3 linked regions of the Homo sapiens genome follow. The protein of the gene in region 1 interacts with the protein of each later gene in a pairwise test. Each region holds a gene or a part of one and is shown in the gene's direction. Other genes may lie near its edges. The genes, in order: MAP6, RARG and RARB.

Evidence for each region.
Region 2: the proteins of MAP6 (region 1) and RARG interact in a two-hybrid assay, tested with the Homo sapiens proteins (one study listed by BioGRID).
Region 3: the proteins of MAP6 (region 1) and RARB interact in a two-hybrid assay, tested with the Homo sapiens proteins (one study listed by BioGRID).

What each region holds. Positions count from the first base shown.
Region 1 is NC_000011.10:75,586,416-75,589,160, reverse strand, and holds the end of MAP6 (microtubule-associated protein 6), read left to right. Parts: intron 1-976; coding exon 977-2,102; 3' UTR 2,103-2,243; downstream 2,244-2,745. UniProt on the Homo sapiens protein: Involved in microtubule stabilization in many cell types, including neuronal cells. Specifically has microtubule cold stabilizing activity.
Region 2 is NC_000012.12:53,215,164-53,222,287, reverse strand, and holds part of RARG (retinoic acid receptor gamma), read left to right. Parts: intron 1-1,925; exon of another isoform or gene 1,926-2,071; coding exon of another isoform or gene 2,072-2,338; intron 2,339-6,493; coding exon 6,494-6,642; intron 6,643-6,853; coding exon 6,854-6,995; intron 6,996-7,124.
Region 3 is NC_000003.12:25,564,254-25,571,377, forward strand, and holds part of RARB (retinoic acid receptor beta), read left to right. Parts: intron 1-5,504; coding exon 5,505-5,665; intron 5,666-7,124. UniProt on the Homo sapiens protein: Receptor for retinoic acid. Retinoic acid receptors bind as heterodimers to their target response elements in response to their ligands, all-trans or 9-cis retinoic acid, and regulate gene expression in various biological processes.

The sequences.
Region 1 (2,745 bases):
GGAAGTTGGTGAGGGCAAAGGTCTCAGGAGAGCAGAGAGAGCCAGAAGTGGGAATGGAGTTAGGGGATCAGGGCCTCATCCCTACCTGAAAGCGGAGTCCCATTGAGTCACCTAGCAAAGGTTGGGGGTAGTGGGAGTGGTGCATGCAATCACAGGGCGCACTGTCTATGGAGAATTTAAAGCAATAAAGCTAAAAGCTGCCTGTAGTCCAGCTATTCAGGAGGCTGAGGTGGGAGGATCACTTGAGGTCAGGAGCTGGAGAACAGCCTAGGTGACATAGTGAGGCCCCGTCTCTACAAAAACAAATAACAAAAAACTAATAGCTGGCCTGCTTTTTATTATCACTATATGCTGCTCATTCTATACAATGTCAGTGATAAAATACTTTTCCCCTTGCAGGAGAGGGAGAGAGGGGCATTCCCACTGCTTCCTTTCCTGGTATGCCATGGACCCCTTGCCCCTTCTTGCAGCCAGCACTTAACAAGGGGGTCAGGGAGTCAGGGAGGCAAAAGAACTTTGAAGGCCCTGAGAACAAGAAAAGAGCACCCTGGCCTGTGGGGGCATCTGGTGGGCAGCTGAGATGGGGCTCCCAGGATGGGCCCAACGATCCTAGAAGAAAAAGTAGGGACCTGGATGGAATGTGGGGTGGACGGGCTGCTGGGATGCCTACTGGATGACTCCGAGTCCAGCTACAGTACTGCCATTGTCACCAGCGTGCCACCCCCTGTGCCACGTGCAGGTTATAATCAATTGGCAAGCACATTGAATGACTGATTCCTGAGCCTTCACCTCACCCCCCTCCCTCACCCCCGCCCACATTCTGTACTAAGAACACAGAAATCATATTCTCCTGGCTCTCCAGCAAGAGCTGCCCGGCCCAGGCTCCACTAGGCCAAGACTTATTAGGCAATCTGTACTCTGCCCTGTCCCTGCCTGAGCTCTACTCTCACAGTGATCACCTCTCTCTCCTTTGCAGGAGCCTGGCTCAACCCGTCAGTGATTCAAGTAAGACTCAAGGTCCTGTAGCCACAGAGCCAGACAAGGATCAAGGTTCTGTGGTCCCAGGCCTTCTGAAAGGTCAAGGTCCTATGGTGCAAGAGCCTCTGAAGAAGCAAGGTTCTGTGGTCCCAGGGCCTCCAAAGGATCTAGGTCCCATGATCCCATTACCAGTCAAGGATCAAGATCACACGGTCCCTGAGCCTTTAAAGAATGAAAGCCCTGTTATCTCAGCACCAGTCAAGGACCAAGGTCCCTCGGTCCCAGTTCCTCCAAAGAATCAAAGTCCTATGGTTCCAGCAAAAGTTAAGGATCAAGGCTCTGTGGTACCAGAGTCTCTAAAGGATCAAGGTCCTAGGATTCCTGAGCCTGTGAAGAATCAAGCTCCTATGGTCCCAGCACCTGTCAAGGATGAAGGTCCCATGGTCTCAGCATCTGTCAAGGATCAAGGTCCCATGGTCTCAGCACCTGTCAAGGATCAAGGTCCCATAGTCCCAGCACCTGTCAAGGGTGAAGGTCCCATAGTCCCAGCACCTGTCAAGGATGAAGGTCCCATGGTCTCAGCACCTATCAAGGATCAAGATCCCATGGTCCCAGAGCATCCGAAGGATGAAAGTGCCATGGCCACAGCACCCATAAAGAATCAAGGTTCCATGGTCTCTGAGCCTGTAAAGAATCAAGGTTTAGTGGTCTCAGGGCCAGTCAAGGATCAAGATGTTGTAGTCCCAGAGCATGCAAAGGTTCACGATTCTGCAGTTGTGGCACCTGTAAAGAATCAAGGTCCTGTGGTCCCCGAGTCCGTGAAGAATCAAGACCCCATTCTCCCAGTACTAGTTAAGGATCAAGGCCCCACAGTCCTACAGCCTCCAAAGAATCAAGGTCGTATAGTCCCTGAACCTCTGAAGAATCAAGTTCCTATAGTCCCAGTGCCTCTGAAGGATCAAGATCCTCTGGTGCCAGTACCAGCAAAGGACCAAGGTCCTGCAGTCCCTGAACCTCTGAAGACTCAAGGTCCCAGGGACCCTCAGCTACCTACTGTCTCACCTCTACCCCGAGTCATGATCCCAACTGCCCCCCATACGGAATACATTGAGAGCTCCCCTTGACACTCACCCCTTGACACACCAATGAAGGAGCTGACAGTGAGAGTGCTCCCCTCCCAGGGGCAGTGAAGACACATATTTAATCTGCATGAAACATGTACAGTAGTCTTGCTGGAATCTAATAAAAATGGTCCCTCTGGCTCAGCAATGTTTCTCTCTGTCTCTGTTGGGCAGGGGTGCATACATGTGTATAGGTGGGCCTGTCAGGCTCTGCATTCACCCGTCTGGACCAGAGGGGTCTGAGAAGCACCAGTTCCTGTGAGTTGTCAGCATGAGATGGGAGTGGGTAGGCGATGCTAGATGGAAACAGGACCCCATCACGGAGGTGGGCAGGATAAGGCAAGGGTCAGATACCATGACAGCCTCACAAGAGGTGCCAAATCCCAGCAGGCTGAGCCCTGGGTAGCTGAGTTGAAGCCTGCAGATGAAACAGGAGCAGGGACCCACCTGGCACAGGGGAATTCTGGATGACAGTTGTTTGCCAAGAGCTCAGCCTTAAAGCTCATCCAGGGGTCAAACTTCTTGAGGAAACCAGGCTCTGATCATAAGTCTCAGGACACTGTATAACCTAACACCTGCTAATCCTCATTCAATATCCATGACAGCTCAACTGAGAGCTTCTAAAGAATATACCTAGAGCCAGGCA
Region 2 (7,124 bases), on another chromosome or scaffold:
TCCTTTCTCTTTCTTCCTTTTTCTTTCTTCTTTCTTTCTCTTTCTTTTCTTTCTCTCTCTTTCTTTCTTTTTTTTGTGGGGTTCGGGTGACTGGATTCAGAAATGGGTATTTGGGGTTGGGGGAGGAGAAGGGAGTTTACACTGGGTTGGAAAGAGCAGTGCATTCCCTCTCCATCCCTGCTTCAAGCCCCCTAGTCAGCCTTGCCACCCCGAGGTTTCCTCGCCATCCACAAGTCAGGCCTTTTCCCAGCCCCGGCAGCCCCCCGCCCCTCCCCCGCGCCCGCCATCCCTCGCCTACTCTGGCACCCCTTCCTGCCCTTTATTCTTCCAACAGGCGCCCCACTCCTGCAGCACCCCAGTGCGCCCCCCACCCGGTACAACAGATTCTTAGAAAAGCGCGCCCCGCCCTGGCCCAGCCACAGCCGCCTGGCGGGGGAAGGGCCGGGCCGGGCGCCGCTCCCGCTCCGCGGCGCTGCCCGTGTGAGCGGCGCTGACAGAGCCGGCTGGGCAGGCAGGCCGGGCGGCCCGGCGGCTGAGGGCGGGGCGCGGGGGAGGGGGGGATTTCCGGGAGTCGCCGCTGCTGGCGCTGTCCGGGGCCAGGGTCCCCCCATTCGGCCCTGCCGGGCCAGGGCAAACTTCTGACGTGGCCAGCCCCCCGCCCACCTCACCCCCTTCTCCGCCGGGCGAGGGCGCTCAGTGCCGGAAGGGGCAACCCAGGGAACAGTGTTGCGGCCTTGGAGAGCTGAGGGGCACTAACCGAAGGGAGGGCAGTTATGCCTAGGCTAGAGGGTATTTAAAGACCCTGAGAACAGTCAGTGACCAGAAGCGCCCCTATTGCCGAGGGAGCCCTTGGCAGTGAGAAACTGGAGGAGGGGAGTTGGCCATCAGGGGCAGATTCATCGAGGCGCAGTTGGCACGGCAGGCACAGCTTATGGGGTAGTTTTGTGCTCTAAAAGTGAAGTTATGTTCGAAGAAGGAGCATCGAGAGAGACGGTCGAGGCGCTTAGGGGGCGTCAGTTGCGGGATAAGGCTTCGGGGACTCGGAGGGAGGCGGCCCGGGCCGCGGCGGAGGGCGGACTGCTCGGGCTAGGAGGGGTAGACTCTGGCTGCGCTGGAGGGGGCGGGGGGACTCCGCGGCAGCGCTGAAGACGGCCTGGGCGGGGTGGGGCGGGGCCGGGTCAGGAGGAGGTGAGCGCGCTCGGCCACCCGCCCCGAGGGGGGTTCCCAGAGAGTTCACGGCGGGAGCGCGCTCCGGCCCTAGGACCGCGGGTGGGGAGACGGGAAGGAAGGAGGAGGCAGCGCGCGCCGAGCCGCAGGAATGCACTTTTCGGCCCTGAAGCGGGCGCGCGGAGGGCGAGGGCGGAGCCAGGCCTGGGAATGAGAGGGGTGGAGGTAGTGCAGGTCCCGAGCCTCAGGAGAGCAGCTGCGCGCGGGGACCTCCACGTTCCCCTCTCCCCAGTCATCCTTAACACCCCTGTATTGACTAGTGTGAAAAAGGGAGAGTTTGGGGAGAGGGAAAACTCTGAAAGGAAATGCTTATGCTTGGTTCCTCCTCTCCTTCTTCCAACCCCGACCTGGGCACGCGCCTCAGTGCAAATGCATGCAAAGCCTATGAGCTGTGGAGAGTATGCCTGCAAGCATTCTCCCGAGCAAGGTGTGTTTGCACAAACGTGTGTGCACCTATGATTTTATATGCGTGCTCACATGTATGTTCACTCTTGCATATTTGCAAATTCTTGGTGCCTGATAAGATAAATGCATGCACGGATGTGTGTCTAAGCAAGCGCGCGCGCCGCGGAGCGAGTGTACGTATGTGTATGTGTGCGCTCCACTCTCAGCTTTGCTCATCTCGGTGCCCGGCCCCCTTCGCTCTCCAAGCCCCACCCCCCACCCCTCCAGGCTTCGCTTTTAAAAAAGGTCTCCCCAGTGCTAGCTGCCGAAGCACCCAGATAAGAGCTGGACGGAGGCTAAAGCGGCAGCCCCAGCTTCGCGCCCCGCCCAGTCCCTTTCCCCTGCTGGGGATCCCCCCTCTTCCCCGCCCACCCCTTACCCGCATGCAGCCCAGCGCCCTATGCTAGCCCTCCCCCTCCCCCCCTGCTGGAGCGGGGCGCCGCCGGGGGAGGAGGGGGAATCGGCTGCGGGTCCTTGGTGTTTCCAGCACCCAGTTTCCCTTCAAGCCGGGTCGCGATGTACGACTGTATGGAAACGTTTGCCCCGGGTCCGCGACGGCTGTACGGGGCGGCCGGGCCCGGGGCCGGCTTGCTGCGCAGAGCCACCGGCGGCTCCTGTTTCGCCGGACTTGAATCTTTTGCCTGGCCGCAACCCGCCAGCCTGCAATGTAGGTACCGGAGTCCGGGGCTGGGGTGTAGGGTGCAGGAGAGGGTGGGATTTACTCTTTCCGTGTGTAAAGAGTGGAACTGAGGTGCAAGGAGGAGCTTCTGGCCCTTTCTATGTAAGGTACTGGCCCTTTAAACGTGGGGGCCTCAGCGTCTCCTTTGCGTGTGTGCAGTAGTGTTTGGAGTGTGTGTGGTTTTTATGGTGGGTGTTTAGCTCGAACCTGTGGTTGATGCCACTCCAGAGTTCCTGGGGATAGGGAGAGACCGAGGTGTGTGGGTAGTTTGCGCCTTCACGTCCGTGGCCCTGGAAGGATATGACACTCAGGACCGTGGGTGGCGTTTGTAAAGCCCATGTGGGAAGCTGGCAGTGTTAAAAATATCGTTTGCAGAGCGTGTGAATCCCTGGAGTGTGCAGCGCCTTGCCTAGGTGGTGTGGGTGTGGGAGCAAGGGTCTCTCCACCAGTGTCGCCTGCGACAGCTGCCAGGTCCACATGGCCTGTGAGGGGATGTTTGTGGCGTGAGGCCGGGAGGGCGTGTGCCCCTGCGTGGCTGCGGGGGCGGTTTTGGAAAGTGCTGTGTTCGAGAGTGCATCCTGTGTGTTCTCATGCCGGGTGGAAAAGGTTGTGCACACAAGAGGGAGAAGGCTGAGTTTTGTACGCCACCCCCATATAAAAAAAGAAATGTTTGGAAACGTGTATGCGGTTATATGCAGAGATTACTTTTTCCTATGGCTCCAACACACAACAACTTCAGCAGGAAGCGAAAAGTTTAAAGCAAAGTCTGTGTGTGTGGTGGGGGGTGGCCTGAAGTTGACAGCGGCAGGGCGAGCACCATTACTGGGTCCCCAAATATCTATCTTCCCCCTCCGTGAAATGGGAGATGCCAGGCCTGGGGCCCTGGAACCCCTTTCCAGAGCAGTAATAAAAAGCTGGGGACTGAGAGGCAGTAAAAATGAAGTCCAGATGAGAGGCGGCTTTGAAGCTTGGGCCGCAGTGCCTGGCGGGGGTGGGGTGTGGGGAGGGGCCAGGAGCGCAGCCTGGAACACCCCCCAAATTTACCCTGGGCTGGGATGTGCTCGCTGCCTGGGTGCGGACGGCCCGGGGATGAGGGGCTTGGGGGCACGCTGGGAAGGGTGGGAAGGGGCGGGCAGCGGGCGGGGCGGCGGGCGCTGGGGGAGTGCGCACGCCAGGTCACCAAGCCCCCGCCAACGCGCCTCGCTCCTTGGCACCAAGCAGTGCTGTTTACAAGTTCGGATTTTTTTTTTTGGTTCCAGAGCAGAGCTGCTCAAATTTAACAACTGGGAAGCTGGAAGAGGGAGATGGCAAACCAGGAGACCGGACTTGACTTTACTTTTGGGTGGGGTGGGGGAAGAATTTAAAAGTGTGTCATTTAAAGAACCGAGAAAGCATGGAACTATTGCTTTGCACCAAATCCCTGTGAATTCTTAACTTTCCTCTCATTGCCCAATAGGATGGGGAGTTGGGGTATGTTATATGTTGTGGGGGTGCTGAGATGGAAAGAATCTTTCAGGAAGGGCTTCTGGGGGCTGGGCAGAGACCCTGTCTTTTTTCAGGCCTATGGAAGAAGCCCTTTGGGCTTGACTGGCCCTAGGTTTTTGAGTTTTAATTGGGACCAATAATTTTGGCCTCTGGGATCCTGGTGGACACACAAAGCCAGCTTCAGGCCTGCCCGCACACACTTTCAGAGGGAAGGGTGCTTGGGGGGTGGAGGTGGGCTGGATGTGTGTGTGTGTGTGCCTGTTTGGAGGCTTTGGTGTCCTGGTGCTGCGTTGGCAGGCTGGGGTGTTTGTCTGGTGGTAGGGCTGTTCCCTTGTGTGGCCAAGTGCTGGCTGTTGTGTGTCAGCCTTGTGACTGGTACATCTACCTCCACGGTGTAGCTGGAGTGAGTGTGTCTCTATTCTGGCTGTGTGTCTGTGCCAGAATCCAGTGAGGGTTCTAGGATCCCATTGTAATATGCCTGCTTTGGTGCCTTATGTGTTGTTAACCTGTGAGTGTGTGTGTCTCCAAGGAGGTGTGTGCTAGATTGTGAGTCCAGGCTGCTCAGCTCTGAGCCTCGCAGCTGGGAGCGTTTACAGCCGGTTATAAAGAGTTTGTTTGAAGCTCCGCGCAGCCTGGTCAGGAATTTCCTCAATTTCAGCAATTTGGGCTTTAAAAGGAGAAAACCCCAGAGCCCACCCCCATCCTCCCCAGCAGGGGCCCCTGCCTAACCCAGGAGCTGCATCCCAATGGTGGGGTCTAAGCCCGAGTCTGGGGAGGGGATCTGATTGGAGTAGACCCAGTTAGCTTTCTGGGGCCTTGACCTCACAGATTGACCTCGGAGCCACTAGGCTGCACTTTAGGGTTCAGGGGGTGGGGATGTGACAGTATCACTTAGACAGGAAAAGTTGCCCCCGGGCCTGTCTCCCTAAGGCCCCCAGTCTTATAATTGGCTGGCACTGCCCCATGCCAGTCTGACCGCACCCAGGCCCTTGCGCAAGAGAGGAAATGAGGCAGCGCTCTGCGGGCAGGGAGGGCGTCAGTGCCAGAGTGAGCACCACCCCACGCACAGGCCTTGGGCAGAACACGTGCCCTTGGAGGACACAGTGGTGGGTCTGAGGAGTGAGGAGAGGTTGGGAAAGGCGTTCCAGCCCTCCTCACATCTCTCAGCACCAGCCCCTCCTGGAGCCCCCATCCCTAGTCTTGAATAGACTCCAGGCACCCTTCTTTCCCCCCTCTCCTCTCTCCTTTTTCTTTGGGTAATCTCACTCTGGCAGGATTCTTATGCTAATTGATTGTATGTGTGTTGGGGGTGGGTAGGGCTTCCCTCCTGTGGGGTGGGTGGAGCTAGCGTGGAACCCTGGCATCCTGGGCATTCCTTCCGCCCTTCTGGCTGCGTTGGGGCGGGCTTCTGACCAGGTGGGCTGCAGAGGGTTAGAAGGGAGAAGGTGTTCATGAGGTGGGTGCGTGGGACACACCTTAGGGAGGGTCTTAGGAATTTTTTTGCATTAACTTGGGCCCTCCAGGTTTGGGCAACAGGTCCTACAGGTTGAATAATTTACAAATTTTCCGAGCCTCTGAAGACCAACCACACGCGCGCGCGCGCGCGCGCGCACACACACACACACACACACTTACCCAGCAGCCTTTTGAACAGAGCAGAGCATGTCCTCCCCATACTGTGGGGCTGAGACCCCTTTTGAGCTGCAATTGGGTATTTTCAGAGTGAAGACATAAGCTCAGAGAGGGTCCAGAAACAGGTTCCCTCCCCCATCAGTCCTGTTTACCTACTGTCACCTGACTTCTCCAGTTTGCTACACCTCCAACGGCTTCCAGACCTGAGAAACTGAGCAAACACCTCAGCCTCTGCTTCCCCAGCTTCTCTGACTCACAGCCACTTGGATCTGCTGGTGGTGTGGCACTGAGCTGGTCACTTCCCCTCTCGTGGCCTCAGTTTCTTCAGGCGTGAACCAAGGCTGTGGTGCATCCTCTCACTCACTCCCCTGAGACCTTTGCCCCATTTGCTCCACTGTCTCTGATGGTTATTCAGGGGTAGTGTGAGAGAGATAAGCCTGAGGAGTTATCCCCCCTGTACTACTGGAAAGGAAATGAGGTCCTGGTTTACCTGCTAAGCATCCCAGCAGGTCATTTGGCCAGTAGCAGCTACAGGAAGCCTGTCATTGCCTACCTGCCCCCAGAGTTATTGCCCCACAGGGAGGACAGTGGGAAGTAGACTACCTGACAAAGATATACCAAAGAGACAGAGAGTGACTAGAGAGCTCAGAGCTGCAGGGCTTTAACTCTTCTACCCACCTCCTGGATAGTTAGGGAAACAGGCCCAGAGAAGTCAATTTCCGGAATGGCCTTGGTCTGGAATTTGGAGGATTAAACATGTCATATAGGATGAGGGCTGGCATTCTTGTGAACAAGTTGGTTAGACTGTGGAGGGTAGAGGGTGAACTAGGGTCACAACAAGCTGTGGTAATAGTGGTCATTAAGAGGATTCTGACAGTGCTTACTGCTGGAACTAGTGCACTGTGGTAGTGATGGCTGTCACCAGTGGGCCAAGGAACAAATGCACATGGGGTGTGTGTGATGAGGAAGCCTGGAGGTCTGTGGGGTCCTTCTCCCCTGACCCTCACATCACTGCTTCCCTCCCAGCGGTGGAGACACAGAGCACCAGCTCAGAGGAGATGGTGCCCAGCTCGCCCTCGCCCCCTCCGCCTCCTCGGGTCTACAAGCCATGCTTCGTGTGCAATGACAAGTCCTCTGGCTACCACTATGGGGTCAGCTCTTGTGAAGGCTGCAAGGTGTGTACGTGGTGGGAGTGGGCAGACGGGGGATCCAGTTACCCTAGTAAGATGAGAGACCAGGCACACAGATGCTGTGTCTGAGCAGCACTGCTTTGCACATAGGTGGTTAATAGATTAGGTCAGGCTTGGGGCAACCTGCAAGGCCAGTGAGAGGCTGGTACTCCCAGCATTGTGCTTCAGAGGCCCTCTCTCTTTCCCTCAACTCCAGGGCTTCTTTCGCCGAAGCATCCAGAAGAACATGGTGTACACGTGTCACCGCGACAAAAACTGTATCATCAACAAGGTGACCAGGAATCGCTGCCAGTACTGCCGGCTACAGAAGTGCTTCGAAGTGGGCATGTCCAAGGAAGGTAGGCTGCCATCCTTGGCTTGGGCAGGAGCACTTCGGTCCTACCCTATGGCTGTGGCCCTCTTTCCTCTGGCCACTCCCACTTCCCTGACCTCTGAGACTTGGCCTGCCCTGGGGTGCTGCCTTCTCC
Region 3 (7,124 bases), on another chromosome or scaffold:
TATGATAGTGGATCATAAATATGTTACTTTTATGCCACCAAATCTGATTTGTAGCACTTAGCCCCTCACAAGGAGAATACTTGATATTTTATGGAGCACCTTTCATCCAAGAAGCGCTTTGCAAACATCAGGCCGGGTTCTATCAGGTGTATAAATCACATCTGTGACCCCCTGAATGCCCCACCTGCTTCATCAACCTTCTGGCTACTACTGTAGGGGTGGAGAGCAGTTAGTGATTCCCCCGCAGACCCCAACATGATAGTGAGACCTTTAAGTTCTGGAAGAAAGAGGCTCAGGTGAACTCTGTATTGCCACATATAGGCCCTGACAGTGGACAGAACACCACATTTAGTTATATGTCTACCTTATCATTTGCAAAACAGTTTTGAGGCCCCCATCTGTGGGTCGGATCTTGTATTAAGCCCTGGGGACATAGAGACAAGTAACATGTGGCCCTTGCCTTTCAGATATTCACAGACTTGGAGGGGAGGGCTTTGATGCAGGCTTGACAGTGTTTGCTCCTCTCTTTGCCTCTCCATTCCCTCCCAGAGGTGCACCGTACCTGAAAGCAGCTTGTCAAACTCCCAGGTCTGGCATAGGTATATGAGTGCATATACCAGTCAGTCGCAATCAGAGTGAAAGAAGAGGTCCACCATCAAACATCCCAGGCAGCCTTGGAGCTGAGCATCAGATGCACACCCCACGCTCCCAGAGAAGAGAGTCATCTCCCCACCCACCATCCCATAGCATCCCTCAATTTACCCTCCCAATTCCCCAGCGTTAGCTTCCTAATCTAGGACCAGTAGGATCCCCCTGCCACACCCAGTAATACACAGGCACAGCTCCCTGTAGCATCCTTCATTGTACTCACTACGCTGTGGACTGTGTGTACATGGGGTAGACTCAGACGCAGCGGAGCACAGTGGGTTTCCTAAGTTCTGATCCTGACTGTATCACTCACAGGATGCATGGCCTCAGGCAGGGTACTCACCTTCCTGTGCCTCCACTTTCTCATCTGCAAAATGGGTATAATAGTGATATCTACTCTATTAGGTTGTTGTAAGGATTGAATGGCCTACCATGAATAGAAGGCTTTATGATAGTTGTAATGAACACTTTCAGTATTGTGGTAAATAATACTCTCGTATATTAATTGCAGTACATGTAATAATAGTGATGCCAATATTCTATTATTATTATTATTACTGTCACTGTTTTATTGTATGATGAATGTCTGTCTGCTACCATAAGTTTTTGCTCCATGGTAGCAACAACCATCCTGTTTTGCGATGGCACATAGTAGATACTCAATAAATATTCATTGAATGAATGAATGAACAAAACAATGAAGGAACAAATGAATCCACCCACTCATTTGGTGCCACTGCGATGGCTTCTCCAAGCACCATTTTTCATATCAGTCTCCTCTGCCACTGACAGCCACAGGCCCCACAGTAATCCCCACAAGTCCTTGGTGTTTAGGTCATCCATTTCCCCCACGGAAGGGCCTTACATTCTTCCTGCATAACTAACCCACATAGGCCTTTACAGTAGTCTACCTCCTTCCCACCAAGCCCACCATCTGTGTGTCTCCATGCAGGTGCTACTGCCATCTCGGGGGAGGCTCTGAAAGGAGCTGTCTCCTCTGGAGTTGACCCCAGGTGGTAAGTGGTGGAGCTAGCACTAGTTCCAGATCTCCTGACTTCCCCTGCAGTACTTGTATCGCCCTTGCCTCCCACTGCTGGCCTCCAGGGGAACGAGTCCCTGCACTGCCCCAGGAGCCACTGACCACGAGGCCTCAAAGGGACCAATAGTCCCAAGAACTTGGACAAAGCTACCATCCCTAGGCCCCCGTGGCTTCTTGTGCACTGTGTCACCTCCATGATTCTGGTGGTTCTTGGCAGCCCTTCTCAAACACTGCGTCTGCGTTCTTCTAGAGTTTAAAACCATTGAGGGAAGCAGCTGCTGAAGCCACGTGTTTAGAAAATTTGTCCGTCAACTTATGAAGCTGTATGTAATTGGGGCATCATCACCAGAGGGGTTGTCCCTGCATTTTGTGGGTGTGGAAGAATTTGTGATAATCCCAGGAGTCCTTTATTCACATAGACAGTGGTGGTGGGACTTCACGTAGGGGACAAAAGGAGTGTGGAAAGTAGCCTGAGGTTACACACTGCTCCCCTTCGAGTGAGCTGCAAAGGCTGCTCCAAATTGGGCCCAAAGCACAGAAAATGGTGCTCTGGCTTCACAGTTGTGATTTTGCAAACGGCGTGTGTGATCACTGCACAACCCAACAGAGATGCCCAACTTGGTGCCCAGCTGCAGCTCACCCAGGGCCCCTTCCCACAGGACCTCACCCCTCCCTTTCTTGCTTGGTTCAGTTACTTCATGGTGACAGCTCACAGTGTCTCCTCTCTCCTGGTAACCCTCTAGAGCTGGGTTTGCTCGTCTGAGTTTTCCAGGCCCCTGGTGGTGGATGGGGACAGTGAAGCAGAATGCTTAGGAGCAGACACAGGTCCTGCAGACTTCCCTGTGGATGGGATTATGGGGACTCCTTCTGTGGGTTGTTAGTTTGTTTTGTGGTTTCTCTTTCTGCACATTGGGTTGACTATTTTCAAACATGGTATTGTTGGGCCTCAAGTTCCTTGAGTGTAGAAATGGGGTCATAAGGCCCACCTCACCTGGCTTACTGTGGGGATTTCGCGAGCTAGGATTCTTCACCTGCTGATGCCCAGTGGCCCTTGCCACACAATCACTAAAGGGTAGTGAGGCTGCTGCTGTGTTTTAATGTAGCTGTAGGTGTCATCTCAGCTTCAGAATCGACTCAAACAGTTCCTGGTATTTAGCGATGTGTCACCTCCCACAGGGCTCTGGGTTTTTTGTTGGTGTTGTTTTGTGATATAATTCACGTAGCATAACATTCATCATTTTAAACTGTACCATTCAGCGGTGCGTAGTGGATCCACTAAGTTGTGCAGCCTTCACCAGTAAGTCCAGAACATTTTCATCTCCTAAAAAACAAAACCCTGAACCCGTTAGCACTCCCGATCCTCCCTCCCCACCAACTTGCCCCCGTACCTGACAGCCACGAGTCTACTTTTTGTCTTTGGATTGGCCTGTTCTGGACATCCATATAATTTAGAATCACACAATGTGTGGCCTTTTGCGACTGGCTTCTTTAAGGCGTATGTGTGAAAGCTTCATCTGTGTTGTAGTATGCATCCATAATTCATTCCTTTCTATGACAAATAATATTCCACCATAAGGACGTCCTAGATTCCACTTCCCCGTCATCGGGTGATGAACATTTGGGTTCTTTCCACTTTTCAACTGCCGTGAGTCACACTGTCATGAACATTCATGGACAAGTTTTGCATAGACACATATTTTCAGTTCTCTTGGGTGTACACCTAGGAGAGGAATTGCTGCGTCACATGGTACCTCTGCGTATAACTTTGAGAAAAACTGCCGAGTACTCTTCCTCGGGGCTCTGTTTCAGAAGGACCCTCCCTGCTTAGATTTGACTTTTTCACTAGCTAAGGAAGGCCATTGGCAGAGGCCGAGGAAAAGAGGGGGGTCTGATCACCTGAGATCCTGCGCACTCACACACAAGCCTTCAGGCATTCCCTCCCCTCAGCAGCCCAGACTCCATCCTCACGGAGAGCCACCATGCCGCCTCTGCCACCCTGCATGACCCCTTTCCCCCTCATTGTGTCTCCTTTGCCCGCCGGCTTCTTTGCATTCTCTCTGCTTTGAACCATGATACCCACTCTCACCCAGCGTCCTGCGCCGGCTGGGAGGGATCGGGTCACAGAGGTCTCGAGGGGCCAGTCTGCACTGGGAAAGAATACAGCTGAGGCTGCACTTCCCACTCATTTCACCAGTGATCTAGAAATTTTCTGAGCCAATGAGCAGTGTCATTTCAGAGTCCTGGGGGAAGGAAACTGTCTAGAAGGGTGTTCTCTTCAGACCTGTTGGTTTCCTTAGGAATAAGTAAGTGAGTCCAAGTGAGGAAGGAACTTCTCAACCACGTGAACTTGAGCATATTTCTTAGCTTCTCCAAGACTCAGTTTCTTCATCTGTAAAATGGGTTTAAACTTGCCTACCTGATAAAAGGATCAAGTGAGATACCGTGATACCATGTTCAAGGGACTCAAAAAAATGTTCCTGGTCTCCCCAGCTGCCCTCCCTCCTGGTTAGGTAGGAGTGGCTCGTACAGACACTGACTTTGTAGTAGGACTCACCTCCCTTTTTTCCTTTCTTCCCCCTTCTCACCCCTTGCTCTTTCCTTTCACCACTTCCTCTCTCCTCCTGCTATTGTCTTACTCTGCCCTCAGCTCCTACCCCAAATATGGGTATTCTCATGGTGTGGACCCAGGGAACTGCCAGTTCTCAAATCACCCGTGTGCTCTTAGGGAGGCAACTCAGGCCAGATCCTCTTAGGGCAGATCAGATTATGCCCTGGGTCATTTTGCAGTGCAGATTCCCAGGTCACAGTGGTGGCATGCACAGCCAGGCAGCATCCAGCCTGGCACCCGCTGGGCCCCAGAGAACATGGACTCCCTGGAGGGGGTGGCATGGTCTGTTTCGCCTGTCTGCCTCCCTGGGTTTCAGTTTCTTTCCTCGCGAGATCCTAGCCAGGGGCTAGAGCTTTGAGTTACACTCGGATTTGAAGTCATCCCAGAGGTCTGTGCTGCAGGAGGAAGCACGGGCTTCCATAGCACTGTGTCCTGGGCCCTGACTTTGTGCCTGGCACCGTGCTTGGCTCGGAGCATGCAGAGGGAAAGGACACACACCTGCTGTGGGTCCAGTGTTCCAGACACAACGTGGAGTCAAGTGGCTACCAGCGAATAAGGGAATGAATGGTTTTCCAGGCTGAAGATTTCATACTGTATCAATTATTATTTTTAAGTAATTTTATATTCCAAAACAGATAATATGGTTCATACAGAAAGTTTAGAAAGCAGAAAAACACGAAGGGACAAAAACCATCATCCTTATCTCCTCTCAGATGAGTTTCTTCAAAAGTGCCTGTCACTTAATTCAGAAAACTAAAAAGCAAAGACACCAAAATGTGTAGCTAGGAAATACTAATTATGAAGTAACGGGGCTTTGTTCAGAGACCTGACCCTTCCCTTACAATGTCACTCAGGGCATCCCATTTGAGGGTAAAGCTCTTGGAAAAATCCTTCTCTCTTCAAGAGATCCAGTCCACAGAAAAAGTTCTCTCACAACAAGCCAAGACTCTGAGCCTCCTGGGTGAGCCCAAGCTCTCCAAACAACTGACGGGCACATGCATATACAGAAAGACAAACCTAGCTCTCTGCCGGGGTCCCGCGGCTGCCAAATCCCTTTTCCAGGGAGGTGTGTTATTACCACCTCTTCCCACTGTTTCTGTCCCAAATATCAAATGAGCTTAAGGCAGCCTTGGGAGGTGGAACCTCCCAGCTCAGGAGCACAGGCCCAGCCTTCAGCGACCCCTGATGTGCCTTCTCTCTCGTTTCCAGCTGTCAGGAATGACAGGAACAAGAAAAAGAAGGAGACTTCGAAGCAAGAATGCACAGAGAGCTATGAAATGACAGCTGAGTTGGACGATCTCACAGAGAAGATCCGAAAAGCTCACCAGGAAACTTTCCCTTCACTCTGCCAGCTGGGTAAATACACCACGGTAAGAGATACTCCTGCCCCAGGCTGCTGGGAGTGTGGAAACCTTGTACGTGCATGTGTGCAGACACACACACACACACACACACACACACACACACACACACTTTGCACTGGGCCTGGCAGGGGCTTGCATGCTAGCCAGCTGGGGCTATGTAGTAGCCACTTCTTTCTGTGAGGTAGCCTTTGGGCGTGGGCAATCAGTGAGTAGGCTGAGTGCCGCCTCACTGCAGTCATGCACACATGCATTCACTCTAGATGCATTAACTGAGTATTTGCTATACGACAGGCTGTGTTCTAAGCCCTGGCAACATGAACTATTCAGTGCTGCTCTCAGAGACTTTGATCTGGTGAAGGAAACAAGTAAAGCCAGTGAAGCGTTACATGGGTCATGACGGACCTCTGTACGGAGGGACCCAGGGGGACGGGGCCTGATCTTTTAAAAACCCCAATCCATCTGTGAAATCCAACCAAGATAAAGAGGCCATCCCCTGGGCCAAGGTTTGCCTTCTGTGAGAGGACATGTACAAAACCCCCAAGCCAGGGCCTAGAAAAGTTTGGGGTAGGCATGCCCCATGCCCAGTTGAGTGAATGTTCCCCCTCTGCTTCCCAGCGTTCCACTAGGAATGGCCTTTCACTGAGATTGGAAATAAAGAGAGGCAGGAAAAAGAGAAGTGAGATAAAAAGGTAGGAGGTGTATGTTGGCTGGTCTAGGTTGTGCCAGTGGAGGGGTCATGAGGTGCTTTAATTTTTCCAAGTGGTTTTTGCATGTATTATGTTCACTGATGTATATTTCTAACTTGTGGCATGTAATAGACACTCAGTAGATATTTGATGAATTAATACAACTAGAATGTTGTTCTGGCCTCTTTAAAAAGCTTAGGTTGCTCACCTACAATGCTATGGTAAACATACTTTAAAAACAAAATCCAAATATTGTAGCACTTGCTGGCTTGGTGAATGGTGTTCTAGAAAAATGATAGCATGGGAGGTCCTGAAGATCAAAAGACAAAATAGTGATACCAGAAAGAAAAAAAAAAAACAGTGAGCGGCGGGGCTTTGGAGCAGTTCTTGGTGAGCATGGGGTGTAGTGCGCTAGGATGTTGGTGGTATCTGTAACACAATAATGGTGACCAGGAGCAGGCCCAGAGGGGCGCCCATGGAATCTGGGGCCAGCACAAACCTAGGTGGCTTCTCAGATGAAAATGAGACTACACAGTTGGGTGGCACCAGCTTCTGAAGGGCTGGCACCCACCTTAAACAGACAAGTCTCCTGGCTGAGCTCAGAGACTTTGGCTCACCTGGAAGCAGAGGTAGAACCTTGAGCAGTACTTTTCAAAACTCAGCGTGCATCTGAAGCACCTGGTGAACTCGTTACAGTGCAGGTTCTGGTGCAGCAGGCATGGCCTAGGGGCATTTCTAACAAGCTGCCAGGCTGCTTATGCTGCTGGTCTGCAGACCAG